Regions from separate parts of the Homo sapiens genome. Here regions 1, 2, 4, 5, 6 and 7 are each linked to region 3. The links come from fine-mapping of genetic effects on gene expression. A gene starts in region 3. Each other region holds a variant in brackets. All regions are shown on one strand. Distances are between the middles of the regions. Region 1 overlaps ANKFY1 (ankyrin repeat and FYVE domain containing 1). Region 2 has its middle 16 kb from the start of LINC01975. Region 3 holds the start of CYB5D2 (cytochrome b5 domain containing 2). Region 4 overlaps ZZEF1 (zinc finger ZZ-type and EF-hand domain containing 1). Region 5 overlaps ZZEF1 (zinc finger ZZ-type and EF-hand domain containing 1). Region 6 overlaps ZZEF1 (zinc finger ZZ-type and EF-hand domain containing 1). Region 7 holds the start of UBE2G1 (ubiquitin conjugating enzyme E2 G1).

The links. PIP is the estimated chance that this variant, and not a neighbour inherited with it, causes the effect.
Region 1: its variant is fine-mapped to the expression of CYB5D2 in blood mononuclear cells (TOPMed, PIP above 0.99).
Region 2: its variant is fine-mapped to the expression of CYB5D2 in macrophages (Nedelec 2016, PIP 0.95).
Region 4: its variant is fine-mapped to the expression of CYB5D2 in whole blood (TOPMed, PIP above 0.99).
Region 5: its variant is fine-mapped to the expression of CYB5D2 in lung (TOPMed, PIP 0.99).
Region 6: its variant is fine-mapped to the expression of CYB5D2 in whole blood (INTERVAL, PIP above 0.99).
Region 7: its variant is fine-mapped to the expression of CYB5D2 in whole blood (TOPMed, PIP above 0.99).

The regions. Positions count from the first base shown.
Region 1 is chr17:4,161,547-4,165,593 of GRCh38, reverse strand. ANKFY1 (ankyrin repeat and FYVE domain containing 1) reads left to right here. Exons shown (of 25, transcript NM_001330063.2): 25 at 1-1,773. Among named protein-coding and RNA genes, the nearest start is that of CYB5D2, 20 kb to the right of the region's middle. The variant C/T (reference allele first, on the strand shown) is at 2,055.
Region 2 is chr17:3,991,019-3,995,065 of GRCh38, reverse strand. No RefSeq gene overlaps it. Among named protein-coding and RNA genes, the nearest start is that of LINC01975, 16 kb to the right of the region's middle. RefSeq lists an enhancer at 1,220-1,349. The variant G/T (reference allele first, on the strand shown) is at 2,347.
Region 3 is chr17:4,141,022-4,145,068 of GRCh38, reverse strand. It overlaps CYB5D2 (cytochrome b5 domain containing 2), which reads right to left and starts at 1,872. Exons shown (of 4, transcript NM_144611.4): 1 at 1,064-1,872. The coding sequence starts at 1,313. ZZEF1 (zinc finger ZZ-type and EF-hand domain containing 1) reads left to right here and starts at 2,039. Exons shown (of 55, transcript NM_015113.4): 1 at 2,039-2,527. The coding sequence starts at 2,174. RefSeq lists enhancers at 1,024-1,603, 1,174-1,726, 1,754-2,063, 1,727-2,278 and a silencer at 2,144-2,313.
Region 4 is chr17:4,096,396-4,100,442 of GRCh38, reverse strand. It overlaps ZZEF1 (zinc finger ZZ-type and EF-hand domain containing 1), which reads left to right. Exons shown (of 55, transcript NM_015113.4): 10 at 3,743-3,834. Among named protein-coding and RNA genes, the nearest start is that of ZZEF1, 45 kb to the left of the region's middle. The variant A/G (reference allele first, on the strand shown) is at 1,617.
Region 5 is chr17:4,068,976-4,073,022 of GRCh38, reverse strand. It overlaps ZZEF1 (zinc finger ZZ-type and EF-hand domain containing 1), which reads left to right. Exons shown (of 55, transcript NM_015113.4): 25 at 267-415; 26 at 2,099-2,339. Among named protein-coding and RNA genes, the nearest start is that of ZZEF1, 72 kb to the left of the region's middle. The variant C/T (reference allele first, on the strand shown) is at 1,790.
Region 6 is chr17:4,029,196-4,033,242 of GRCh38, reverse strand. ZZEF1 (zinc finger ZZ-type and EF-hand domain containing 1) reads left to right here. Exons shown (of 55, transcript NM_015113.4): 41 at 241-415; 42 at 985-1,117. Among named protein-coding and RNA genes, the nearest start is that of LINC01975, 54 kb to the right of the region's middle. The variant T/ATTTATTTATTTT (reference allele first, on the strand shown) is at 1,926.
Region 7 is chr17:4,366,246-4,370,292 of GRCh38, reverse strand. It overlaps UBE2G1 (ubiquitin conjugating enzyme E2 G1), which reads left to right and starts at 3,618. Exons shown (of 6, transcript NM_003342.5): 1 at 3,618-4,022. The coding sequence starts at 3,977. RefSeq lists enhancers at 497-546, 3,485-3,779, 3,599-4,047 and a silencer at 3,448-4,047. The variant A/C (reference allele first, on the strand shown) is at 2,072.

The DNA.
Region 1 (4,047 bases), 21 kb before region 3:
GGATATAGGAAAAGCCTCTTTCCACAGACTTAGGAAGCCCCCCGACCACGCGGACGCTCGCTGGGCTGCACTCAGCAGGCTGCTTGAGTGGGAGCTGACTCCAACATGCCCTGCCCTGGCTGGGACTAGGCATGCTTCCAGCCCTTCCCGTGCTCTCCCTGCTGTCAACACTTGCGTACAAACCTGCCTAGCTGTTGTAAGTTTTCATCAGTAGCTTAAGTACTAGTAGCAAAAACTTAAATTCATTCAGAAAGTTGCCACTTCTGAATGAGTAGAGCAGGAAAAGTAAACTTTACTGAAACATAATTTGCTGCAACAGTCAACATTGTTATGCTGAATGTGCTCTCAACTGCCCTTTGCTCATCGCCAGATTTATTATCCAGTGTATTCCTAACAGTCTTTTGTTGTCGTTGTTTTTAAAACAAAGGTACGGACCATGTGCTATATATAAATCGAATGGCTTAAACTAATTTGCTATGATCCTCTAACACCGAAATTTCCCATAAACTTAAGTGCCTACACTTAGGACTTTTGAACTTTCAGTCATCTTTTTCGTGGTGTCTCACTGAACGATGTGTTAGAACATGTGTTCCATTTGGAGTTTTGGGCCTGTGCACGGTCAACCCCAATTACCAATTTAGTTGAGGCTGGATTCGATTGCTCAGTTCACCTGCCACGTTCTCTCCAAGGAGTGGGGTCTACGTGACCTTTAGTCCTCTACCTCAGAGCCCCGAGTCATTTCTGACCACCCCGTTCTGTGTCCTCACTCTTGTCCCTGAATGGGTCCCTGTGTGGATCTCAGTGTGTGTGTGGTTTCTCCACTCCTCCCCGCTCATGTCCCACACCTGCCATATTGAACCGTTTCTGCACTAATCTTCTCCACGGGCACGGAGTGGAGGGAACGTCTTGGGAAAGGGGAGAGCTTGACCTCCATCTAGGTTTCTTTTATCTGGAGAAAAAGAACACTTTTGAACTATGTAATGCTTCACCCTGAAAGGCAAGCTAACGCTAACTTCCCAGGTGACAGTAGCAGGAACAAGGAAGGGTAATGTTTCCATGACAGACACTTGCTTCCCTTGGGACAAGTCCCAGAAGAACTACCTGAAGCACCAAAGCTCCCCACCCCAGCCTGGTGGCAGAGGAAGCAGGTGGCACCAACTCACCAAAGGGACTTGGGAGCCACCTTCTCACTCTGTGGAAGTACTTTAGTGAGAGCTGACTGGCAAGATAAAAACCCTGAAATTCCCAGAAGTTACAGATGCCTTAAAGACTTTCTTTGGAAGATCATTGCCTGTACTATTCCTTTTTTGTGTGGCATAAATAATATATTAACCTGTTACAACTGACAACATTGGTTTTCTGCAGCTAGGGAGTCTTGAGTCGAGACTGCTCGCCTTGATGACTTGCTCTTTTTTGGCAGATGTGTGGAGTTGGCTGTTACGACATCCCTGTGTGATCCCAGAGGAGGGGCAGTAGCTGGGCAGAAACTGCAGGCACACATTTGGGTGGATCACCTGGCTTCCAGCCCCTTCGGGGTGGTGCTCAGTGTGGGGTGATGGTATCATAGAGGACCACGGCGCTTATCAGCATTGTTTCTTTGGAGTCTGTGTAATGGAATGTATTTTTCAAATACTGATATTTGCATTTTCTGTAACAATTCCTTATAATAAAATGAAGTAAAATTGTGCATTTAAAGTGGAAACTTTAATAAGACATTTGTAGTTACTTCTAATGCAGAAGTACCAATAAGCATTAAAAACAAATTTTAGAAAACTCCTGACGTGAATAAGTTTCTTGACCAGCTGCCCTCCAGAAAGTTTGAATTCCAACATTTTTCAGGAACATGCTGTTGACAGCAGTAAAAGTAGCTATTTTATGTATGTATTTTTAATTTTTAAAAGTTTCAGTAGGTTTTTGGGGTTCAGGTGGTGTTTGGTTACGTGAGGTTCTTTAGCGGTGATTTCCAGGATTTTGGGGCACCCATCACCCAAGCAGTGTACACTGGACCCTTTTATCCCTCACCCCAACCCTTTCCCCTGAGCCCCCAAAGTCCA[C/T]TGTATCATTCTTAATGCCTTTACGTCCTCATGGCTTAGCTCCCGAAAAGTAGTTATTTTAAACATACTAGCTGCCTGAACTTACTGTGCCCTTGGCCCAGATTTCAGCTCATAGCACCGAGCGTGATCACTGAGGCAGTCTCAGTCACCGTCACCTGACCCCTCTGAAGTTCTCAAGAGGATCCACTCATGAGGAGCTTTCTGCTGGCCGAGGCGTGAAGGGCGACTGGCACTGTGGGTTTCAGAGAATGCTAAGGACAGTTTCAGGCCTTGCAAATTAAAACCTAGTGATCCATAAAGCCCCTGTACAAATCACTACCAATCAAGCAGCTCACGTGGCCCTCACGCTGTCCTGAGCAAATGTATTCCCTTTTTCCTGTCTTCCATTTTGCTTACCCCTAGGTCAGACTAGCTGTGGTGATTGATAGAGCTCATAAAGCTCATTCTCCAGTGGCTTTTCTCCTAGTTAATATGCATGTGAAGTGTTTCCACAGGACAATCCCAAGTAATCCTCACAGCTGCCCTTGAGGCGAACAGTGCTAACCACGCTGTCACTGGTTATGATAAGCGAAGCACAAACAGTAACCAGGCACATCAACTTCCACACGTTTGCCCAGCCAGGGAGAGCACTGGGTTTTAGTTCTGCTTTTTTATTCATGAGCTGAGAGTTCTGGGCGAGTTTCCTAACTTCTTTGCCTCTGTTTCCCTATCTACATAATGGGGGCGGGACTGTAGTCCTTAACTGACAGGGTTGCCTGGAGGAAGGTGATCAGTAATGTGTCCTTCTCATCCAAGTACCCGGATTCTGGTGTGTGCACCGCAGGCTCTTCTGGCAGTATCTGCTGCCACCGGAAGAAATCTGGGGGCTCTGGCAGTAGGAAGTACTCTCAAGGCTAGGGTCCAGCCTAGGGTTGTTGCCCTTCTCTGAGGCACCCACAGACTTCTGAGCAGGCACAGTCCTAACCTCCCCATTGGGGCCAGCTTTCAGAGTACAGCTTTGCCTAGAGCAAAGTGAGTGTGGGGCGGGGCGGGGGTCACGCAGTGGCTCAGCTGTGACCAAAAAACGTCAGACTCTTCACTCTTAGATGTTTATAGAAAACTGTAATCTCAGAATGAAAAGGCAAATGTTGAAACTTCTTTCAAGATGACTTCTTTATTTTTGGGTTTTGTTTGTTTGTTTTGGGAGAGTCTCTCTCTGTCGCCCAGGCTGGAGTGCAGTGGTGTGATCTCGGCTCACTGCAGCCTCCACCTCCCCAGTAGCTAGGACTGCAGATGCGTACCACCACACCCAGCTAATTTTTGTATTTTAGTAGAGATGGGGTTTCACCATGTTGGCCGGGCTGGCCTCCATCGAACTCCTGGCTTCAAGAGATCCGCCCACCTTGGGCTCCCAAAGTGCTGGGATTATAAGCGCCCGGCCTCCTTCACAATGTTGGAGTGGAGTGCAGCTGCAAAGGCTTTGCCTTGACACTGTGCTCACTGGTGTGGCAGAGATCAGACTCGCATCACAAAGCCCAGCTCTGTCACCCGACGGTTGATGTAACTATTAGAAGAGGTGGGGAGATATTTATGCCCCTTTTCTGGGCCATAAAATGGGAACTTCTCAAGGCAGGCATAGAGATTAAATGAGAACAAGGCCTGGCCCAGCATAGTTGCCCAATATGTATGTTTTCTCCTTCCCTTCCTTCTGCCAGCAAGTCTAACTGCATGCTCAGCCTAAGCTGAGCTTATCTGTGGCTTCCATCAGGGCCTTGCCCTTCCTCCCCCATGGTTTTGCCCAGGGCCACCTGTACTGGAGAGGGAAAGGCCAGGCATTTCTCCAGTAATTACCAGCTTCTCATGGCTGAGCCCTTCAGGCCATTAAAATGACAACCTACTCTTGCTGAACCTAATTCTTTGCTGAATCCTTTGCCCTGACATGAGAGATGTGTTACCAGATTAAGTAGGAAGGTAAGTACCATAAGGTAAGTATCAAAAAGGAAATGAATTCTCA
Region 2 (4,047 bases), 150 kb after region 3:
AACATCAAACTTACTAATGAAAAGCTGGATGCTTTCTTCCTAAGTCAGGAACAGCACAAGGATGTGTACTCTCAGCACTTCTATTCAACATTGTAGGGGAGATTCTAGGTAGGACAATTAGGATAGAAAAAGAAGCAAAAAGCCATCCAGTTTAGAAAAGAAGTAAAACTATCTCTATTTGTAGGTAACCTGATCTTCCATATGTAAAATTTTAAGGAACTCAGTAAAAAATTACTGAATTCCAAGAGGCAGGGTTCATGGGGGCATCTTGGAGGCTACCCTCCCCAGTGCCAATTCTTCTCTTTCTTCATAGCATTGATCACAATGTGTACATATACTGACATGGATTTTTTGGTATCAGCATCCCCCTATTAAACTGTAACACTAATAAATTCAGCAAGGTTGCAGAATACAAGATTAATACACAAAAATTGATTGTATTTCTGTACATTTTCAATAAAGAATCCAAAAATGAAATTAAGAAGATTCTATTAACAATAGCATCAAAAAGAATAAAATACTTAGACATAAATTTATCAAAAGAAGTACAAAACTTATAGCATGAAAACCATGAAACATTGTTGGAAGAAATTAAAGATCTGCCATGGCTTGGATGTGGTTTGTCTCTGCCAAAACTCATATTGAAACTTAATTGCCAATATAATGATGTCAGAACCTTTAAGAAGTGGAGTCTAATGAGAGGTGTTTGGGTCATGGGGGGGTTCCACTCTCACAGGCCCCTTGGTGCCATTCTTGTGGTAGTGAGTGAGTTCTAGCTCTTGTGAGACCGGATTTGTTCTCATGGGCATTTATAAAAATGTTTGTTAGTATTTTGTTGAGGACTTTTACAAATATTTGGCTTGCTAGTATTTTGTTGAGGACTTTTGCATCCACACTCATAAGAAACATCTCATGAGAATGTGAGAGTGGGTTGTTATAAAGCCAGGACAGCCCTCAGGTTTTGTTTCTTCACATGTGCTCGCTTCCCCTTTGACCTTCTGCCACATTTTCATGCAGCAGGAAAGCCCTCACCAGAAGCTGAGCAGATGCCAGTGCTATGCTTCTCGAACTTCCCAGCCTGCAGAACTGTGAGCTAAATAAACCCCTTTCCTTTATATATTATTCTTTCTCAAGTATTCTGTTGTAGCAACATGAAGCAAACAAAGATAATATATAAATAAGCAGAAAGTAACATCCCATATCTGTGGATCAGAAGCGTTAAATTTGTTAAGATGGTAGTACTCTCCAAATTGATCTACAGAGGGAAACCCAGTGACTTACAAATTTAGTGGCCTGTAACAACAAACATTTATTATCTCAGTTTCCGTGGGCCGGGAATCCAGGCACAGCTTAGCTGGGCGTCAGTGGCTCAAGGTTCTCACGAGTTGCAGTCATATTGAGACTTGGCTGGAGCTAACAGATCTGTTCACTCACATGGTGGTTTGCAGGCTGCAGTGTTTCGCAGGCTGTTGGACTGAGGGCCTCTCAGTTCTTTGCCATGCCACATGGGCTTCTCCATAAGTCAACTCACAACATGGCAGCTTACTTCCCCTGGCACAAGTGATCCAAGAGCAAGACCACCCAAACTGGAAGCCACAGTCATTTCTTTTGAGACAGGTTCTGTCTCTGTCACCCAGGTTGGAGTGTGGTGGCACAATCATGGCTCACTGCAGCCTCAAACTTCCAGGCTCAAGCCATCCTCCCACCTCAGTCTCCTGAGTAGCTGGAACTGCAGGTACCTGCCACCACACCTGGCTAATCTTTTTATTTTTTGTAGAGTCAGGGTCTTCCTATGTTGTCCAAGCTGGTCTTGAATTCTTGGGCTCAAGCAATCCTCCTGCCTTGGCCTCCTAAAGTGCTGGGATTACAGGTGTGAGCCACTGTGCCCAGCCAGCTACAGTCTTTTTATAACCCAATCTCAGAGGTCACACTCCAACACTTTTGCTTTAGTGTCTGTGATCATCAAGTCAATGAGTCCTACCCCCATACAAGGGGAAGGTACGAAATAAGGGCTTGAATTCCAGGAGGTAGGGATCATGGGGGATCGTGGAGGCTGTCCTCCACAGCGCCCTTTATTATCTTTCTTCACAGCACTGATCACAATGTGTACATATACTGACATGGATTTTTTTTTTTTTTTTGTATCAGCATCTCCCTGTTAAACTGTAAGCTCCATGGTGGCAGAGACAATATCTGTTTTGTTCATCATTTTGTGCCCAAATTAGAGCACAGGGCCTGACTCGACAGGCACTTAACAAATATTAGTTGTGTCAGTTAGTTGGGAATAATAAATATCTTTTACTTTTATTTATTTATTTGTTTATTTATTGTTTTGGTGGTTTTGGG[G/T]TTTTTTTTTTTTTTTCCGAGACAAGATCTCAAAAAAAAAAAAAAAATGTTGAGATCTGTCATTCAGACGGAGGGCAGTGGTGCCATCGTGGCTTACTGCTGCCTCAACCTCCTGGGCTCAGGTGATCCTCCCAGGACAGCCTCCCACGTAGCTGGGACTACAGGTGCACGCCACCATGGCCAGCTCATTTTTGTTGTTGTTGTTGTATTTTTTATAGAGACAGGGTTTTGCCATGTTGTCTAGGCTGGTCTCAAATTCCTGGGCTCAAGCAATCCACCTGCCTCAGCCTCCCAAAGTGCTGGCATTGCAGGCATGAGCCACTGTGCCTGGCAATCTTTTCCTTTTAGACAGCCTCTCCCTGTTTGTTATTTAGGTTGACAGTTGAACGAATGGATTTATAAATATTTATTTTTGAATAAACATAGAAAATGTTGACTGGGTGCAGTGGCTCACTCCTGTAATCCCAGCACTTGGTGCGGCCAAGACGGGTGGATCATCTGAGGTCAGGAGTTCGAGACCAGCCTGGCCAACATGGCGACACCCTGTCTGTACTAAAAATACAAAAAAAAAACAAAAGAAAAAATTAGCTGGGTGTGGTGGCGCACGCCTGTAATCCCAGCTACTCGAGAGGCTGAGGCATGAGAATTGCTTGAACCTGGGAGGCGAAGGTTGCAGTGAGCTGAGATTGTGACACTGCACTCCAGCCTGGGCTACAGAGTGAGACTCTGTCTCAAGAAAGAAAGAGAGAAAGAAAGAAGGAAGGAAGGAAGGAAGGAAGAAAGGAAGGAAGGGGAAGGGAAGGGAAGGAAGGGAAGGGAAGGGAAGGAAGGAAGGAAGAAGAGAGAGAGAAATAAAGAGAAAGAAAGAAAGAGAAAGAAAGAAAAGAAAAGAAACTGTCTAATAGCACAGGTGAGCAGTGTGGAGTGGTTCTGTTTGAGGATTGGGCACGGGATGAGAGAGGAGAAAGCATTTCTACCCTCCTCTTATCCCTCTGCATTGTTGGAATCCTTAACAATGAGCAAATGTTATTTTCACAATCAAGATTTTAATAAAACAAATGATCCATAAATAATAAATAAAAATAGAAGACAAATGACAAACTGGAAAAAATTTACAACAAAAGGTTATTTTCTATAATCTACAAGGAGCCCTTGTAAATCAATAAAATAAAGATAAACCCACCGACAGAAAAATGGCCAAGAACCAGAAACTGACAATTCCCAAAAGAAAAGATACAAATGGCCAATAAGCAGATGGTAAATGTTCACCTGGAGGAGTAATCAGAGAAACGCAAGAAAAAAACAAGAGGAAGGAGGAGGAAGGGAAGAGGAAGGGGGATGGGAGCAGGAGGAGGAGGAGAAGGAGAAAGAGGATACAAAGAAAGAGAAATATGAGCATGAGAAAGAGGAGGAGGAGGCCGGGTGTGGTGGTCCAAGCCTGTAATCCCAGCACTTTGGGATTACAAAGTGGGCGGGCGGATCACCTGAGGTCAGGAGTTCGAAACCAGCCTGGCCAACATGGTAAAACCCCGTCTCTACTAAAAATACAAAAATTAGGCAGGTGAGGTGGTGGGCGCCTGTAATCCCAGCTACTTGGGAGGCTGAGGCAGGAGAATCACTTGAACCTGGTAGGCGGAGGATGCAGTGAGCCAAGATCGTGGCATTGCACTCCAGCCTGGGCAACAGAGTGAGACTCTGTCT
Region 3 (4,047 bases):
CACGCCTGTAATCCCAGCACTTTGGGAGGCCAAGGTGGGCGGATCATAAGGTCAGGAGATCGAGACCATCCTGGCTAACATGGTGAAACCCCGTCTCTACTAAAAATTCAACAAATTAGCCGGGCGTGGTGGTGGGCGCCTGTAGTCCCAGCTATTCGGGAGGCTGAGACAGGAGAATGGCGTGAACCCGGGAGGCAGAGCTTGCAGTGAGCCGAGATCAGGCCACTGCACTCCAGCCTGGGCGACACAGCGAGATTCCATCTTTAAAAAAAAAGCACTAGACTGGTGGTCCGAGTCCATATTCTGTCAGTATTCAGGTGTGAGGGTTTCAGGCAAATCGCATCCTTTAACCCCCTCAGCTGTAACACAGGGACACCAGCATAAACTTAATTTGACAAATGTTTCTTGAGGCCTAACATATGCACAACTTTGGTCTACGTATCAAGGACTGTAAAGGTGACTGGACCCCTTTCCTCTGCCCTAACCTTCTAAGGAAGGCAAACAGGTGCATCTTGTACTAGAAGCAGGAATGACTCAGACCAAATGTACTATATGACGGGCCATAAAGGAATAAAGTATTGATGCATGCTCATAAACCATGGATGAACCTTGAAAACACTATGCTTAGGGGTGGGGGGAAGAAAGATTATTTGGGACCAGGGCATAATGAAGAGATGGTTGGAATTATTAAGGAAACTGTGAGGGTAGGGGCGGGGCGGGATCTCGTTTATCTGTGCCCTAAGAGCCCCCACAAAAGTCCGGCACACAGCCCGTATCCTAGGGCTTCCGACGCTGGGTAATGGGTAACAAGAGACAGAAGACATGTTTCTCCAATGTAAGTCACGCAGGGCGGTGGTGGATGACAGAGCTGGCCCACAGTCCCGCCAGAGCCAGAGAGCCTAGAAGGATAGTGCATGCAGCTCGTCCCGCCCACCGCACGGGTTTGATGGATGTGGGGTGGGGATGGGGGGGGAAATAGATGAATAATGAACCAACGAACGACGCGCAGGTGGCTACTGGCTCGCGCCAGCGGAGAGAAAGGCGTGAGCAGCCTCGCTGATACCTGCGAAGCCGCTATAGTGGGACCCAGGCTCGTAGTGCCTCCGGCCGGAGGACACATCGTAGACACGGCCGAGCAACGCCAAGTACAGGCCCGGGTCCCCTGGGCCGCCGCGGTAGCGAGACAGCTCCTCCGGTATGAAAAGGCGAAAGCCAGCGCGGGGACCCCACCAGCCCATAAGCCGTGCTGCCATTACCGCTGCTGCGGCTACAGCCAGGCCCAACAAAAGCCCACGGCCTCCGCACCTCAACATCTATATAGGCCCACCCGCTCCGCACTTCCGAGGTTGCCGCCTCTATCTACAGCTAAGATGGCCGAGACGCCGAGCGTGACGTCATCGGCGCGCGCGCTCTCGCTCTCTCTCTCGCGCGCTAGTGCTCGCGCTCCCTCCCTTAGTCTCTCTCGTTTTATCTGTATTCCTGGCACTGGCGAAAAGCTCGCTGTCTGCGACTTTTTCCAGGTACTTTTTTTTTTTTTTTCTGAGACAGAGTTTTAGCTCTTGTTGTCCAGGCTGGAGTGCACTGGCGGAATCTCGGCTCACTGCAACCTCCGCCTCCCGGGTTCAAGCGATTCTCCTGCCTCAGCCTCCCAAGTAGCTGGGATTACAGGCACGCGCCCCCACGTCCGGCTAATATTTTGTATTTAGTAGAGACAGGGTTTCACCACGTTGGTCAGGCTGGTCTCGAACTCCTGACCTCAGGTGATCCACCCGTCTCGGCCTCCCAAAGTGCTGGGATTACAGGCGTGAGCCACCGCGCCTGGCCCTTCTCGTACTTCTTGGCTTGCAGGTTGTCAGCCCCAACAAAGATGGCGGCAGCGGAGGCTACGGAATGACGTAGATACTGAGACAGACTCGTCCTCTGGGAAATCAAGGTTGCACCCTTTGAGGCGGCGCTCCCCGCCTAGCTGTCGTGAGTTGGTAGAGGCCGCCTATCTACGTGACGGCGCCTTTGCGACAGCGGTCGTCGCTTGACGGCCAGGAAGCCGGAAGCCGCAGGGGCCGCCGTCGTCTCCTCCGCGTCCCCGCCCGCCAGCTGCTGTCGGAGGTTGACAGGTCGAGGCGGGGAGGCGGCGGCGGCGGCTGCAGAGCCAGGCGCCCAAGACGGAGACCCCATGGGGAACGCTCCGAGTCACAGCAGTGAAGACGAAGCGGCAGCTGCCGGTGGCGAGGGCTGGGGCCCACACCAGGACTGGGCCGCGGTCTCGGGCACGACCCCCGGCCCGGGCGTCGCGGCTCCAGCGCTACCACCCGCCGCGGCGCTGCTGGAGCCGGCCAGGCTGCGAGAGGCTGCTGCAGCGTTGCTGCCCACACCCCCCTGCGAGTCGCTGGTGTCGAGGCATCGCGGCGCGTTGTTTCGCTGGCTGGAAGAGCGGCTGGGCCGCGGCGAAGAGTCTGTCACTCTGGAGCAGTTCCGGGAGCTGCTGGAGGCTCGCGGCGCCGGCTGCTCTAGCGAGCAGTTCGAGGAGGTCAGGGCCGGCAGGCGACTGCGGGGATGGGGCAGGGCGGTCGCCCCCAGGGGACTGAAGGAAGAGGTGGGCATTTGCTTTGGAGAGGCCAGGCGGGGACCCATATGAGGTGTTTCCAGCTTTTCACCAGGCGTTTGCTTCGTTTCTCTTTAACCTATGTTAGAGGTCTGGAAAGTCTGCATCAGGCCGTCCTTGCTCTGAAGAGCTGGACAAGCCCATATGTCTCTCTCTGTATGTTGTAATGCAGACCTTTGTGCAGTTGATTGACGCTACTCTGGAGATCTTCTATCAGATTCTCGAACAGTTTGGAGAGAAAAGAGATGTAAGGATAGGAGGAGTGGCGCTGAGAACCATTTTTTGTATTGTCCTGTCCAGGTTTTTACACAGCACCTTCCCAATTCAGTGTGGGCGCCGAATAAGTGTGGAAAGACAGTAGTAACATGCTGGAAAGGCTCACATTCTAAAACCTATCCTCCTCATGCAAAAACTAGCTTTTCTAAAATACATACTGGTTTGTAGATCCTTAAAGAACCATATATTAGACTCATTTAAACCTTCATAGGATCCGAAACTGATAGGCAAATACCAGGTTTCCTGTGAATACTTGTAATTATGCAGTTCTTCATATAATCACCAAGATCATGTCTGCTAAGTCATTAAGAGAGCAAATTGATTTGGCAACAAAATATTTTCCTTGGAAGGCATTTTGGGAGTTTATTTACTGGGCGCTTCACTTCGAGTTAAGAAGACTGATCCAGGGTTACCCAGTGAATCATTAGTAAAACAGACTATCAACTAGATCTCTTGCTTTTTTTTTTTTTCTTTCTTTCAACTTTTATTTTAAATTCAGGCGTACATGTGCAGGATTTGGATTTGCAGATGTATTACATAGGTAAACGTGTGCCATGGTGGTTTACTCCACACAGCATCCCATCACCCAGGTATTAAGCCCAGCATCCATTAGGTATTCTTCCTGATGCTCTCTCTCCCTCCACCCGCACCCTATTTTTTGTTTTTAATGTCTCACTACCTCCTTCCTGGGATCCTATTTCTTTTAACACCACGGTATGACCAAAAAGGTACTTATTTTGTGAAAATGAGTTAGCCAGTCATGTAGAATCTTCAGTGGCCACGAAGGGTGTGTACATAAAGCAGTAAACCAGCGGGTACTTGCAGTGCCTTTAAAAGGTTCTGTTCACCTTAAAATCAGAGGCTTTTAAAATATTTTAAGAATGTCTTCCTGTACATGGCCAGAATTCAGATAATGTAGTTTGTGTGTTTCTTATGAAAAAAGTACCTTTAAGGCATCCCAACCCTTAAAAATAATAGTCATGGCTGGGCGCAGTGGCTCACGCCTGTAATCCCAGCACTTTGGGAGGCTGAGGCGGGAGGATCATCTGAGGTCAGGAATTCAAGACCAGCCTGGCCAACGTGGTGAAACCCCACCTCTACTAAAAATACAAAAATTAGCTGGGCATGGTGGCGGGTGCCTGTAATCCCAGCTACTTGGGAGGCTGAGG
Region 4 (4,047 bases), 45 kb after region 3:
GATTTTAAAAATCTAGCTGTAGTTTGTGGATTTGTTATTTTTGCCATGTGCCTGAGAAACACAAGGGTGGGATGTGAATGGGTGTGGGGAGCACTGGGTTCCTCCTGCTCACTCCCTCCAGCCATCACTATCTATTGCTTGTAACTCAGGGTTGATGTCGGTCTCTCTTGCTGCACTGCAAAAAGTAACCCTTAAGGGACAAGACAAGAGGAAAGTACTCATGGCCAGAGCTGTTGGGTTTGGGGGTGATTTTTTCTTCCCCTTATCGGAGTAAAAGCTCTTCTCATGGGTACACGTCTGATTCTCCAACAGTGGGGAAGTACCACTTTTGGACAAGTGCCACTGCAGGGCCCACAGAATGCCCAGAGAACTCAAACGCTGATACTTCAGGGGGCTAACGTTCCTGGCAGTCACCACTGTCACTTGGTCTGGTATTTTAAAGGAATACTGGGTGCTCCTGATAGGAGCAGAAGTGGTAGATTTATTAAGTCCTTTAAATCTGATTGGTTATTTTTTTTTTCCCTGTTATCTAAAAAGAATAAATTGGCAAGTGGAGGGCAGGGTGTCAAAACTTATAGATTTAAAATATCACAGTTCAGCTGGGTGCAGTGGCTCACACCTGTAATCCCAGCAATTTGGGAGGCCGAAGCAGGCAGATCACCTGAGGTCAGGAGTTCGAGACCAGCCTGGCCAACATGGTGAAACCCCATCTCTACTAACAGTACAAAAATTAGCCAGGCATGGTGGCAGGCACTTGTAGTCCCAGCTACTTGGGAGGCTGAGGCAGGAGAATTGCTTGAACCCGGGAGGCGGAGGTTGCAGTGAGCTGAGATTGCGCCATTGCACTCCCACCTGGGTGACAAGAGCAAAACTCTGTCTCAAAAAAAAAAAAAAAAAAATCACAGTCAAACCTGTGAGCTAGGCTGGACACAGTGGCTCATGCCTGTAACCCCGACACTTTGGGAGGCAGAGGTGGGAGGATTTCCTGAGGCCAACAGTTTGAGACCATCCTGGGTAACATAGTGAGATCCAGTCACTACAAAAAATGAAATAAAAAATTAGCTGGGCATGGTGGTGTTTGCCTGTGGGCCTACTTAGGCTGAGGCAGGAGGATTGTTTGAGCCCAGGAGTGTAAGGTCGCAGTGAGTTATGATTGTACCACTGCACTCCAGCCTGGGCAACAGAGCGAGACCCTGTGTCTAAAAAACAAAAGAGAAAAATGAAAAAAACCACGTGAGCTGATTTCTTACCAAGAAAAGGAAGCACAGAAGTTTTATTTTTTTTTTTAAGGTTTTGTTTTTGTTTTGCCTTTCTGAAAAAATGTCATTGCATATTTGGTGGCAGTGTTATTTTAAAAGAGTCTATCCGATTCTGTTGACTTAAATTATTGCTTCTGCTACTACATTGAGACTAACTAAAATTGCTGATTTATCACTTAACTTTTAGACAATAGTTTAGCCTTTACATAGATTTCTTTTACATAGAGACATCCAGGGCTCTGGGAAAAGGTAAGAGTTCAATAATTGGGATAGTTCTTAGTATTACTGTTAGTGGAGTTGTGTGAATTGTTGGTAGTATGGATTCTTAAAATTGCCTATAGAATTGCTCTTTCATAG[A/G]ACTAGATCATAGAGCGTCTGTGTGAATTAGAGAAGTTTCCTTTGGATTTAATTTTCTTAGTTTTGGTGACTCATTTTGCACATTGTCTTTATAAATTTTTGTTGGCTTGAACTCCATGTAATGAAACAGGAAGCATGAAATTGGTTTTAGTCTTGTCATTTTGATAGGCAGAATTGTTAAGAAAATTCAGAGTCCCAGAAAAAAAAGCTTATTTATTGCTGAGTTATATCATTTAGAGACGTTTGAAAGAGAAAGGCAACCTTGGGTCTAGCAGAAGACTTTTTCATGAGTTGTTAAAGGATAATTACCAACAATCAAAAAAGGAAAATAGTGACTGTCATACAAATATAAGTGAACACATTCATACTTTTAATTTATTTACTTTAATTTATTTATTCATTCATTCATTCATTTGAGACAGGGTCTCACTCTACTGCCCAGACTGGAGTGAAGTGTTGTGATGATAGCTCACTGCAACCTCCACCTCCCAGGCTCAAGCGATCCTCCCACCCTGGCCTCCCAAGTAGCTAGGATTGCAGGTGTGCACCACCGTGCCCAGCTGATTTTTTTTTTTTTTTTTTTTTGAGTTGGAGTCTCACTCTGTCACCCAGGCCGGCTGGAGTGCAATGGTGAGATCTCAGCTTACTGCATCCTCCGCCTCCCGGGTTCAAGCGATTCTCCTGTCTCATCCTCCTGAGTAGCTGGGATTACAGGTGTGTGCCACCACGCCCGGCGAATTTTGTGTTTTTAGTAAAGATGGGGTTTTCACCATGTTGGCCAGGCTCGTCTCGAACTCCTGACCTTAAGTGAACTGCCTGCCTCAGCCTCCCAAAGTGCTGGGATTATAGGTGTGAGCCACCACACCCACCTTGATTTTTGCTTTTTTTTTTTTTTTTTTTGGTAGAAATGGGGTCTCACTGTGCTGCCCAGGCTGGTTTTGAGGCTCAAGTGATCCACTGGCCTCAGCCTCCCAAAGTGCTGGGATTACAGGCATGAGCTACTGTGCCTGGCCCAGACTTTTTATTTAGCTCATTAATTAATGAGGGAACCAGTAAGATGTTACAAACAGTTCTAAGGAGAATTCATAAAATACATGTAGACTAACAAGAATGCTAAAATTAATTTACAAATAGATAGAATGTTGGTCAGTATCCATAAGGAATAATCAGCAACATTTCCACAGAACACAGTGTTTAGTTCTGTGGACAAGAATCATGTGCATCACTACCAGTGTTCTACAACTTACAGAATTGTAAAATAGTTTAGAGACCATAAAAGGCAGAGACGACCGAAAGGGTATGTTGGCTAGGACACCCAGTGATTCTTTTTTTTTTTTTTTTTTTTTTTTCCCATTTCAAAGCCTTTCATAACCTTTCCTGACAAAGTGTTGTAGAAGCTAACTAATCCCTTTCTCAGCCACTAAGCCAGTAGGCTTTATCAGCCCAGGCAGCCATCAGCCATGGTTGTAGGTGTGGCTCAGGAAGATGATTGATTGTCCAGTCTTTTGTCGCTTTGGCTTAAATGTTTTATAAACATTTCTTTTCTTTTTCTTTTTCTTTTTCTTTTTTTTTTTTGAGACGGAGTTTCACTCTGTTGCCCAGGCTGGAGTGCAGTGGCACAATCTCCAAGCTCCGCCTCCCGGGTTCACGCCATTCTCCTGTCTCAGCCTCCCGAGTAGGTGGGACTACAGGCGCCCGCCACCACACCTGGATAATTTTTTGTATTTTTAGTAGAGACGGGGTTTCTCCGTGTTAGCCAGGATGGTCTCCGTCTCCTGATCTCGTGATCCACCCGCCTCGGCCTCCCAAAGTGCTGGGATTACAGACGTGAGCCACTGTGCCCGGCCTAAACATTTATTTTCTTATTGTTACCTCAGAGCAGGGCTGCCTGTGAGGTGGAGGGGATTGTGCCCTGGGAAAGTTGAACCTGGTCAGTTCTCTGCTTACCTGGGGCTTTATCATCGGGGTTGCCTCTGTCCAAAGAGGACATTTTTCTCTAATTTTCGTGAAGATATCAGACCAGTTACCCCCCATGACTCAAAGGATATGGTTTGTTTTTGTTGATCTTAGTTCTTAGGGCTATAAAAATGGGTTAGTTCCCTAACTTGAGTTTTCCCTTTTTTCAGGTTTTCTTACGGAAACTGGAAAAACCAGAGCCAGCACTATTTTTTCTACCGGAACTGAATCTGCCTTCCAAGTTACACAGATAAGAATTATGGTAATTTTCGTGCTACCTTCTTTAAGCAATGTTACTACTTTTGTTTTCAATTTTTATGGGTACATAGTAGGTATATATATTTGTGGGGTACATGAGGTGTTTTGATACAGGCATGCAATGTGAAATAATCATACAGAGGATGAGGATGAGCTATTCATCCCCTCAGGCATTTAGTCTTTGTGTTATAAACAATCCATTACACTGTTGTAGTTA
Region 5 (4,047 bases), 72 kb after region 3:
AGCTTACTATAAACAGATTAGTCATTTCCAAGGTACCTTGTAACTGAAGTTGTTCCACAGAGCAGCAGTATTTCAGGACTTGGTGGTTTAGCTTAATCTGTGGTATGTGTTTACAAAGTATCACAATTACATTCTGGTATGTGGGTAAACTTTCTCTAAGTTTTAATAGTATCCATGGTTTTTTTTAACCTTTTCTTTCTCATTTCAAAGATTCTCAATATATTAAGGCAAAAATAGAACTGTCATATGTCTTCTTCTCTTTCTAGAGTTAGGAAGTAACATGGTAGTACCTCAGGCAAAAATGGCATTAGTCCTAAGCTCCCCACTGTGGAAACCTGTCTTCAGGCATCAGGTTTGTCCAGAGTTGGAATTAGAAGCAAGCTGGCCCACTCACCCACACCGGAATAGTAAGGAGGTATTTACTCTTCCGTTTTCTTTCTATTTAGACTGGAAACTGCCTGCAAGTATTTATTACTTTAAGTTATAAACACTTGTGTTTCTATCTTACTACCCGTATTAAGCAGTTAGCTCCTTGAGGCCAGAAACTATACCTTGTTAACTTGTTAACGCCACCGTGTCCCACAGGGGCCAGTGCGCAATAGGTGTTCAGAAATACTGAATGCGTGACTTGGGTGAAATGTAGGAGGTGCTCAGTAAATCTCTGTTGATGGAGTTATCAGGCAAACAATTGAGTGTACTTCTAGTGCCTACTGAGTCAAGCTTTAGAGCAATGATTTGTGCTATACCTTTTGTTCTCCTTAGAATTACAGCACATGATTTAGGTGTATAAGATTTTAAAAACTAAAAAGTTTGCCCTGTCTTTATTTTTCACCTCTCCTTCCCTCTATTTCTGTATTCTACTTTTCTTCCTTCCCCTCCCTGCCCTGCCCCACGTTATTCAGTAGTTAATTGCCAAATCCAGTGGCTCTTCCTCAGCTTCTGTTCTCCTTGCCTCTGTTAAATTTGGCTCCTTCAGACCCTCTCTTCTTTGGATCCATGCTAGTCCGCTGTCTTCTCTTACATCTGACTGCCCACTTGCCTCCTTCATTGACTTTTCATATTCCTCCTTCCCTAAAGGGTAGGCTTTATTCAGGCTTTCTTCCCTTCCCCACAGCCCACCAAGACTTCATCCTCTCCACTTTCTTCTCCTGTCAAACATTGTGGCCCTAATTCCTAATATCAGTCTCCAGGTCTGGTTTTCTCCCCGCTCCAAGTACCTGTTTCCATCTTCCTGTGAGGCATTTCCATTTAAATGTCCTGACTCCCCTTAACTCAGAAGTGTAAAACCAAAGACCGGTCACTTCTGTGGTGGTCAGTGTTCCCCAGGCCTGAAGCCACTGCTCCCTAGCATCCCCTGTCCTCACCTGTCTCCCCATTCCTGTCCAGTCAGCTTGCAGGTCCTGTGGATTCTTCCTCATGATGTTCATCTCTGTCCTTTCCTCTGTCTGCATCTTTATCCGGGCCCTCATTTGCACCTGCCTTATGACATTCGTACCTACCAAGTTTTTTTTATAATCACTGCATTATCTTGTCATTCCACTGCCAAGCACCATTAATGGCTCCCCATTGCCCACAGGGTGAAGTCTAACTCCTCAATGTGACAGTCAAGGCTCTCTGCAGTCTCCTTTCACCTTACCTATCTGACTCTAGTTCCCATCACTCCCCAGCTGAGACTTCAGGCCAGGTCAGTCTCCCCACTGACTCGTAACCTCTGCTAATGGTTATGTTCCTCAGAGCCAAATCTGCCAATCCTTCAGGGTCCAGGCCAAAGCCCATATCCTCCAGGAGG[C/T]TTTTCTTAATTACTTTAACCTACCAGGATCTCTCTCCTTTGAATTCTCAGCACTGGGTATCCCTTCTAGGCATTTGGCACTTGATAATCTTTTGCTTTACGGGAATGCTAGTTCTAATGCTTTTAATGTTTTATTTATGTTTATCTTTTTTTAACTCATATCTCTGTCTGGTCTTCCTAAAATAGATTTAAACTTCCGGAGAGTGTTCACTGTGTTTTATACTTCTGCTTTGGCCTAATAGTTTGCTCAATAAATTTTATTTTTTGAATGAATGTGTTAAATGTGATGGGTTTATTTTTTGTTTCCAGGTTAAGAACATTCCTGACGACCCCTGCCGCCATTTTCTTCTTGATTTTGCCCAGTCAGAGCCTGCTCAGAACTTCTGTGGGCCATATTCAGAACTTTTCAAAGGATTCATACAGGCATGTAGAAAACAGGCCCCAAAGACAGATATAGTTGCTGGTTCCACTATTGATCAAGCTGTGAACGCCACCTTTGCTGCTCTGGTGTATCGCACTCCAGATTTATATGAGAAGCTGCAAAAATATGGTAACTTTATTACAGGGAATATTTTTGATCTGAAGGCTAATTGCTAAGTTTTAAGAAAGCCTATCTTAAGTGAACATTTAAAATATTTTAAAATATAAACACATTTCTATAACTGTAAACATCATCTTGTTGGTTCTACTTTGCCTATTAAAAGATTCATGGCCACTTTATGGTTAGCAGATTATAATGTGTGGCACCTAACCTTGAGTTGCAAAATTAGCAGGTAAATTATCTTTATCCAGAATTCTCATGGAAAACTGCTGAGAAATTTAATGGAAAGAAACCTTAACTTGGGTCCTGGTCCCAGTGCAAAAACTCAAAAGTTGTGCAGCTTCAGGTTAATCAGACGACCTTTCTGCACCTCAGTTTCTTTATCTGTAAAATTGGTTTAAGGGTGATTCGCTCTAACATTCTAAGAAATTCCAATTAAAACCACAGATGTTTAAGTTCTTGAATGTAGTAATAACCAAGGAGGAAGCTGTAGGTATTAACTATTACCTTTAGCTAGCTTGCAGCGCCTTCGTAGCATCACCCCACTAGGCTTCCTTTGCTGATAACCTTCTCCTCACCATCTCTTTTCCTCATGTCTCTTAGGGATGCCATCTCTGTATTTACCCTGCTTCCCTGCCGCCTAGCAGGACCCACACGGAGGGAGAGTCTCTCTCTACCTTCATACTAATTCAGGGGAAAAGTGTTTCAAGCCCTACCTAGAGATAAGGCATGGGCTTCCTAACCGCCTGGCAGGGTATGTCTTCTCCACGCAGCGCAGGCGGGAGAAGCAAAAACAGAGCTTCCTTCCACTAGAGTGGGTAATTGACTGTTGCTCATTTTGTTTTGTTTTGTTTTACTTTTTGAGACGGAGTCTCACTCTGTCACCCAGCCTGGAGTGCAGTGGCGCGATCTTGACTCACCACAACCTCCACCTCCCGGGTTCAAGCGATTCTCCTTCCTCAGCCCCCCGAGTAGCTGGGATTACAGGCACCCATCAACACGCCCGGCTAATGTTTGTATTTTTAGTAGAGACGGGGTTTCGCCCTGTTGGCCAGGCTGGTCTTGAACTCCTGACCTCAGGTGATCTGCCTGCCTCAGCCTCCCAAAGTGCTGGGATTACAGACGTGAGTACCGCGCCCAGCCTCGTTTTGTTATTATTGATATTTTTATTCCTACCACCTTTATTGCTCATTTCTTTGGATCTCACATTGCAGAATTTATTTTCTGATTGTTAAAACATCTTGATTACATCCCCAAATCTTAATATCTCCTTTAAAAAGCTGCTCAAATAAACAAAACTGTGTTGAGACATGAGTGATTTATGGAAACAAATGTCATATGGAAGAGTTTTTCTCTGCTGAGGAATCGAGGGGGTGATGTAACCTGTATGGTTTTGGCGGGGGGAATGTCAATATGTATTTTTGTAATCAAATTATAGTAAGAAAGCTGGATAATCTTTTTACTTGAAGGAATTTTCAGTAGAGGGATAAAAGCCTGTGGGTTAAAAGCTGAGAAATGGAAGGCTTCCTGCTGTGGGAAACTTCAGGCTGTGTTCAGATACCACATACCTGTTTGCAGAAGAGAAAACACACAGTCAACTGTGGGAACTCTACAACTGTGGGAACTCGGAATGTCTTGCTGTGTGCAGGTTGTTTCTAGAATGCCTGCCATTATTGGTTTGAAGGAGGCCAGGCTTGTCTTAGTTCTTTCTGTCTCT
Region 6 (4,047 bases), 110 kb after region 3:
CAGGTGATTTTTATAGATATTTTTGGAAACACAGCCGTAGGGTGAGTATGTAAGTAACAAGTCTTGATTTTGTTTGCTCTTTTACTCACCATTATACGAAAAGCATTATTCTGGTAGTTTTTAAGCTAGTTAATGAATGGCTCTTTGAAGGCTTCTGGGTCTGCCTTGGAGTGTAGTGAGCTCTAACGAGTTGAGTTTGGAGCCCTGTGTACTGCCCCTAATGGAGCTCTTGCCTTCCAGCCGGGTGGGCTTGGACTGGGCGTGCTCCATGGCAGAGATCCTGCGGTCACTCAACAGTGCCCCACTGTGGCGTGATGTCATTGCCACCTTCACAGACCACTGCATCAAGCAGCTGCCATTCCAGCTGAAGCACACCAACATCTTCACCCTGCTCGTGCTGGTTGGCTTCCCCCAGGTACCACACTCTGAAGGCCTGAGGGCCTGGTCACCCCTTCCAGTCTTCACTATACACACCAAAGCCTCTGTGGCTTCCGGATATATAGGCATAGATCTCTTTGGAAGCTTTTTCCTTTGCCTGTACACCTTGCTTTTGTAGTATTGAAGTATTGTCAAGATTATGGGATGGTTTATTCAACTTGCATTTTTAACGGTTAAACATTTGATTCATTTATAGCCAGTAGTTGGCTTTGAATAATAGGTGACTGTAATATATCAGATTACAAAGAACTTCAAAGAAAATTGTCTTTCATTTTGGCATTCACCTTGACCTTATTTCTAATCTTCATGTCCCTCAACTGATTAGGACAAAGGGGGCTGTAAAAACATGGCCTCATCCAGCAAGGACTTAAACCAATTCTGTGCCAGCCTGTGGCAGACTCTTTGGACTTAGAGATGAGAAGATCCCTATCCTTGCGTGCTTGTTGAAATCAGAGGCACAATCAAAGGGGGCTGGGCTTATGCCTAAGAATTCTTTCTTGTCTCCATGTTTGAGTTGCCTTTCTGTCTCTGTCTACCACGTTCTAGGTCCTCTGTGTGGGAACCCGCTGCGTTTATATGGATAATGCCAATGAACCCCATAATGTGATCATCTTGAAGCACTTTACTGAGAAGAACAGGGCTGTGATTGTTGATGTCAAAACTCGGAAGAGGAAAACAGGTACCATGCGTAATTATTTTTTTCTAAGAATGGAAGAAAAATGCCTAATCCCTCCGTACCCTAAAATCAATGAAATTACCTTGGCTCTTGGCCTGCGTGTGATTTTTTTAAAGAACAAGTTATAGCTCCCCGAGCTTCTTTTTCCTTATTTCTGAAATGATGTATTGAATTGGGATAATTTCAAAGGCCCCTTTCCATGCTGTCTTTTTGTGTATATGGCTCTGTGTTTTTTGGTTGGCTAGATATATAGGTTCTGAACATTTAATTTCTCCATTTGCTGGTGTCATTTGCTTTCTATGGGTAATTTAAACATATTTTGGAGTCAGGTGACTACATGGAGTCAGGTGGCTGCACTTAAAATAATTGTATTAGAATTCATGTAACTTTCCATTTTGTTTTATCAGTATAACATTGAAAGTATTATATCACAAATGCCCTTTTGACTTAGTTTGCCAAGGCCCAGGCAATCTGGAGTATCTACCCATTACATTCCCAGTTCTGCTCGTGAAGCCATCTGCATTTTCACTCAGCATCAGCATTAGGCAGTGTCTGTGCTGTTTTCGTGTATGTAAATGTCTAAGATCTTTTCTTTTGCGTATGAACATCCATTTGATCCAGGACCATTTGTTGAACAGGCCATCCTTTCTCCATCCAATTATCTTGGAATCTTGTCGAAAATTGACACACATGTATCTGTCTATTTATGGATTCTATTATGTTTCATTAATCTATATGTCCTTACTTCAGTACTACACTTTTTTTACTATTGTAAATTTATTTATTTATTTATTTATTTATTTATTTATTT[T/ATTTATTTATTTT]TGAGACCAAGTCTCACTCTGTTGCCCAGGCTGGAGTGCGGTGACACGATCTCAGCTCACTGCAACCTCCGCCTCCTGGGTTCCAGCGATTCTTCTGCCTCAGCCTTCCAAGTAGTTGGGATTACAGGCACGTACCACCACACTTGGCTAATTTTTTGTATTTTTAGTAGAGATGAGATTTTACCCTATTGGCCAGGCTGGTCTCAAACTCCTGACCTCAGGTGATCTGCCTGCCTTGGCCTCCCAAAGTGCTGGGATTACATGCATGAGCCACTGCGCCCAGCCTAACGTTTGTATTTTTAGTAGAGATGGGGTTTCACCATGCTGGCCAGGCTGGTCTCAAACTCCCGACCTCAAGTGATCCACCTGTCTCAGCCTCCCAAAGTGCTGGGATTACAGGCATGAGCAACCACATCTGGCCAGACTATTTTAAATTTGTATAAAATTTTGAAATCAGGTCTTTCAGCTTTGCTCTTTTTCAGAATTGTTTTGACTCTTCTAGTTTCTTTGTCTTTTTGTGTAAGTTTTAGAATCAGCTTCTATAAAAGAGTTTCTATCAGTTTCTATAAAAGAGCCTGCAGGAGCCAGGCGCAGTCGCTTACACCTGAAATCCCAGCACTTTGTAGAGACCCCCATCACTACATAAAATAAGTAGCCAGGCGTGGTGGCATGCTGTAGTCCCAGCTACCTGGGAGGCTGATGTGGGAGGATCACCTGCAGTGAGCTGTGATCTCCACTATAGCCTGGGCAACAGAGCAAGACCCTGTCTCAGAAAAGTATATGGCCTTCTGGGATTTTGATTGGCATTGCATCAAATCTATAGATTAATTTGGGACAATACCTTAACCAGACAGATGTTCCTCAGTTTATAATGGGGTTATGTCCTGATAAACCCATTATAAAGGTTGAAAAATCATTACGTTGAACCATTGTAAGTCAGGGACTTCTATATTGAGTGCATGGTACATCATTCAGTTTATTTAGAGAATAAATTTAGGTTTCTTTAATTTCTCTCAGCCTGGCATATTGGGGTATGAGCCGTCTTCTCTTATTTTCTGATTGTGGCAATTTATGTCTTCTCTTTTTGTTTCCTAGATAGTCTAGCCAGAGATCTGTCAAGTTATTTGATCTTTTCAAAGGACCAACTTTGGTATCATTCATTTTTCTTTTATTTCTGTTTGCTGTTTCTTTGATTACTGCCCAGATAAATTTCCTTATTTCTTCTGGCTTTGTGTTTAATGTGTTGTTACTGCTTTTCCGGTTTCTTTTCTTTTCTTTTTTTTTTTTTTTAATAGGATCTCAGCATGTTGCCCAGGTTGATCTCAAACTGCTGGGCTCAGGTGATCCTCCTGCCTTAGCCTCCCAAAGTGCTGGGATAACAGGCATGAGTTACCACACCTGGCTGCTTTTCTGGTTTCTGTCTTTTTTTTTTTTTTTTTTTTTGAGATGGAGTTTTGCTCTTGTTGCCCAGGCTGGAGTGCATTGGCATGATCTCAGCTCAATGCAACCTCCACCTCCTGGGTTCAAGTGATTCTCCTGCCTCAGCCTCCTGAGTAGCTGAGATTACAGGCACATGCCACTATGCCCGGCTAATTTTTGTATTTTTAGTAGAGACAGGGTTTACCATGTTGGTCAGGCTGGTCTCGAACTCCTGACCTCAGTGATCCACCCGCCTCAGCCTTCCAAAGTGCTGGGATTACAGGTTTCTTAAGGTAGGAGCCATCACTGATTTGAGACCTTTCTTCCTTGGCAATAGAAGAATTTTAATGTTGTGCATTTCCTTTTAAGTATGACTTTAGCCACATCCACTATTTTTTTTTTCTTTTTCGGTGTCCCTTGGATTCAGTAGGAACATCTCACAATTTTTTTTTATGATATATTGTCATTTTCATTTAGGTCACAATATATTTTCCAATTTATCTTGTGATTTTTTTTTTCTTTGCTCTGTGGATTATTTAAAAGTTTGATGTTTAGTTTCTTAATATTTGGGGGATATTCCAGATATCATTTGGTTGTTGATTTCAGGTTTAATTCCCTTGTGGTCATAGAGCATATTTTTAATTAGTTCAGTCCTATTATGAATATTATTACAATTTGTTTTATTGTCCAAAATTAGGTCTGT
Region 7 (4,047 bases), 230 kb before region 3:
GTGAGCCGAGATCGCACCACTGCACTCCAGCCTGGTTGACAGAGCGAGACTCTGTTTTAAAAAGAAAAGAAAAAAAAAAGTGGTACACAGAATGGGGTCTTGTTGGTGTGGAAGAGCTGTGTGGCGTGAACGCTAAAGCCAGTAAGCTGGAAGGATAAGGAATGGTGGTCAGGGTGCGTGGCTTGAAACCAAGTACTGGGGTGTGGTGGAATTTTGGGTGGCGAGACTGTCCCACGGGAACACGGAGAGGCCAGCTGGTGGGAAGGGAAGGAGAGGAAGTCAAGTGGTGAGAGGCAGGGGTACCGGACGGGTCATTCATGTGGGTAATTAGGTCCCCAAGGTGGAGGGCTGGAGTAGAATGAAGAGAAGGGCTCTGAGGCAGGAGGAAAAGTCCATGATGAATGGGTCTGCAGGTCACAGCACCAAAGGGGAGTGGCAAGTGCTGCAGCTGGATGGCATTAACCTCAAAAGCAAGAGGGCCCAGGTGCAGTGGCTCACGCGTGTAATCCCAGCACTCTGGGAGGCCAAGGCGGGAGGATCGCTTGAGACCAGTTTGAGACCAGCCTAACCAACAAAGCGAGACCCACTCCTTGGACTTGGTCTGTCATACCAATGGCACCCAGTCACCCGGGTCAGGAGAGTCACCTGTGGTGCTCCCTGCTCTTTCCTATATCCCATAGATCACCAAGGCCTACATATTCTTTGTTTTTTCGTTTTTTGTTTTTTTTGAGACGGAGTTTCACTCTTGTTGCCCAGGCTGGAGTGCAATGGCACAATCTCAGCTCACAGCAACCTCCCCTTCCCGGATTCAAGCAATTCTCCTGCTTCGGCCTCCCAAGTAGCTGGGATTACAGGCATGCACCATCACGCCCGGCTAATTTCGCCTTTTTTTTTTTTTTTTTTTTTGAGACAGAGTCTTGCTCTGTCGCCCAGGCTGGAGTGCAGTGGTGCGATCTCGGCTCACTGCAACCTCTGCCTTCTGGGTTCAAGCGATTCTCTTGCCTCAGCCTCCCAAGCAGCTGGGACTACTATTAGCTGGCCACCACGCCCAGCTAATTTTTGTATTTTTAGTAGAGACGGGGTTTCACTATGTTGGTGAGGCTGGTCTTGACCTCCTGACCTCGTGATCCACCTGCCTTGGCCTCCCAAAGTGCTGGGATTATAGGAGTGAACCACTGCCCTAGGCCCTAATTTTGTATTTTTAATAGAGACGGGGTTTCTCCATGTTGGTCAGGCTGGCCTCGAACTCCTGACCTCAGGTGATCTGCCCGCCTCGGCCTCCCAAAGTGCGGGGATTACAGACGTGAGCCACCTCGCCTGGCCACCAAGGCCTAAATATTTTATGGACACTCCTTAATCCAAGTCTTAGTTACTGCCACAATCTCCATAAGGGTCTCCAGGCTTTAAAAATTTTTATTAAAATTTTAAAATGTTTATTAAAAAAATATTTTGGGCTGGGCATAGTGGCTCATGCCTGCAATTCCATCACTTTAGGAGGCTGAGGCGGGTGGATCACTTGAGCCCAGGAGTTCAAGACCAGCCTGGCCAACATGGTGAAACTCTGTCTCTACCGAAAATACAAAAATTCTCCAGCCATGGTGGCACAGGCCTGTAATCCCTGCCACTCAGGAGGCTGAGGCACGAGAATCACTTGAACCAGGGAGGCAGAGGTGCAGTGACCTGAGATTGTGCCACTGTACTCCAGCCTGGGCGACAGAGGGAGACTGTTTCAAAACAAAACAAAACACACTTTTTTGTAGCGATAGGGTCTTGCTCTGTCACCCAGGCTAGTCTCTAGCTCCTGGCCTCAAGTGATCCTCCTGCGTGGAGTTTCCAAAGAGCTGGGATTACAGATGAGAGCCACCACAGCCTGCAGGGCACTGGTCTTGACCCTCCCTCCCTCATCAATTCTCTGCAGCCACAGCAAAACATTCAAAATGCAAGTCTGCTATTTTTCTACTCCTAGTTAAAACTTTTCAGGGGCCTCCCACTGTTTAAGGATTAGGTTCAATTTCTAAACCTTTATCCAGCCCTGATCTTTCACCAGATTTGGAAATTATTACAAAAAATA[A/C]ATCTTTTTTTTTTTTTTTTTTACAAAAAATAAATCTTAAGAAACTAGGAATAGGCCGGGCACAGTGGCCCTTGCCTATAATCCTAGCATTTTGGGAGGCTGAGGCAGGCGGATTGCCTGAGTTCAGGAGTTCGAGACCAGCCTGGGCAACATGGTAAAACCCCATCTCTACTAAAATACGAAAGAAAATTAGCCTGGCCTGGAGGCGTGCGCCTGTAGTCCCAGCTACTCAGGAGTCTGAGGCAGGAGAATTGCTTTAACTCGGGAACCTGAGAGGCAGAGGTTGCAGTGGGCCAAGATCACGCCACTGCACTCCAGCCTGGGCGACAGAACAAGGCTGTCTCAAAAAATAAATAAATAAATAAATAAAATAAAAAAGAAAGAAACTAGGAATAGAAGTAAATTTCCTTGATTTGGTAAAGTGAAATATCAAAATGGTCCCTTTGGTCTATTTGATAGGGGGCAGTGGTTCACACTTGTAATGCTAACACTTTGGGAGGCCGAGTTGGAAGGACTGCTTGAACCCAGGAGTTTGAGACCAGCCTGGGCAACACAGAGAGACCTCTGGCCCCCCCCTCCTTTTTTTTTTTTTTTGTGAGACGGAGTCTCTCTCTGTCGGCCATGCTGGAGTGCAGTGGCACCATCTCGGCTCACTGCAATCTCTGCCTCCTAGGTTCAAGCAATTCTCCTTTCTCAGCCTCCCTGGTAGCTGGGAGTACAGGCGCCTGCCACCAGGCTGGGCTAATTTTTGTATTTTTAGTAGAGACCAGGTTTCACCATGTTGGCCAGGATGGTCTCGAACTCGTGACCTCAGGTGATCTGCCCACCTCGGCCTCTCAAAGTGCTGGGATTACAAGCATGAGCCACCGCGCCCCGTCAAACCCCCCGATCTCTATAAAGCAAATAAAAAAATAGCAGGGCATGGTGGTGTGTACCTGTAATCCCAGATACTAAGGAGACTCAGATGGGAGGATCCCTTAAGCCCAGGAGTTCCAAGCTGCAGTGAGCTATGATCACTGCACTCCAGCCTGGGCGACAGAGAGAATTGCCGTCCATAAATGATAATAATAACAGGGCCGGTCTCGGTGGCTCAATAATAATAGGGCCGGACGCGGTGGCTTTTTTTGTGCACTCTTCATGTAAAGTGAGTTATCATCATATATTGCCTCTATTTTGATGTTTGGTTAAAATGGGGCACACCAGTACTAACTTCGGCTTTCTAACAATTCCTACTTCGCACACCATGTGGCAGTGTTAGATGGCTTTTGGGCGCTCGCCAAGGACTAGACATCTACCACTTCTTCTGGCCTCTTCGCTCCTATATCCACTGCTTCAATCCAGAGGCTGTATTTGACCCTCTGCGACCTCTTTGTCATGGCGTCCGCGGGGCGTCTACCAGCGGAGGCTTGGGCTGGCAGCCGGGCGTCGACCTTCCCAAAATGGCGGCGGACGGGACAACTGCGCTCAAGGGGCGGGGTTCCGCCGCCGGGGGCGGGGCGGGAGGCCGAGGGGTCGGGCTAGCGGGCGGGACGCTTCCCAAGTCGGCAGTCTCAGCGCGCCTGCGCCGAGCGGCCCTGCGCGCAGTGAGGCAGTGGCGGGGGAAGGCACCGGTGGGGCCGACGGGCGGGTTGAAGGAGGGAAGCGGGCGAGCGAAGTCCCAGTGCGCGCCGCGGCAGCCCGGGCACCCTCCCCTTCCGGGCGTGAGTCGCTGTGAAAAGAGCTGAAGCGAGCGGACTCGCACCGGCAGCGAGGCGCCGCTCCCGCCGCCTCAGCCCGGCCTTCCTCGGCTCCGGCGCTCCGGTCGCGGGGCCCGGGTTCCTCGGCACACCCCGCTCCAGCCGCCCCCAGAGCCTGTCCCCAGCCCTTCGGAAGCCCCGGCGCCAGCCCGGGCCCTCGGCAGGGAGGATGACGGAGCTGCAGTCGGCACTGCTACTGCGAAGACAGCTGGCAGGTGAGCAGGCGGGCGGCGGGGCGCC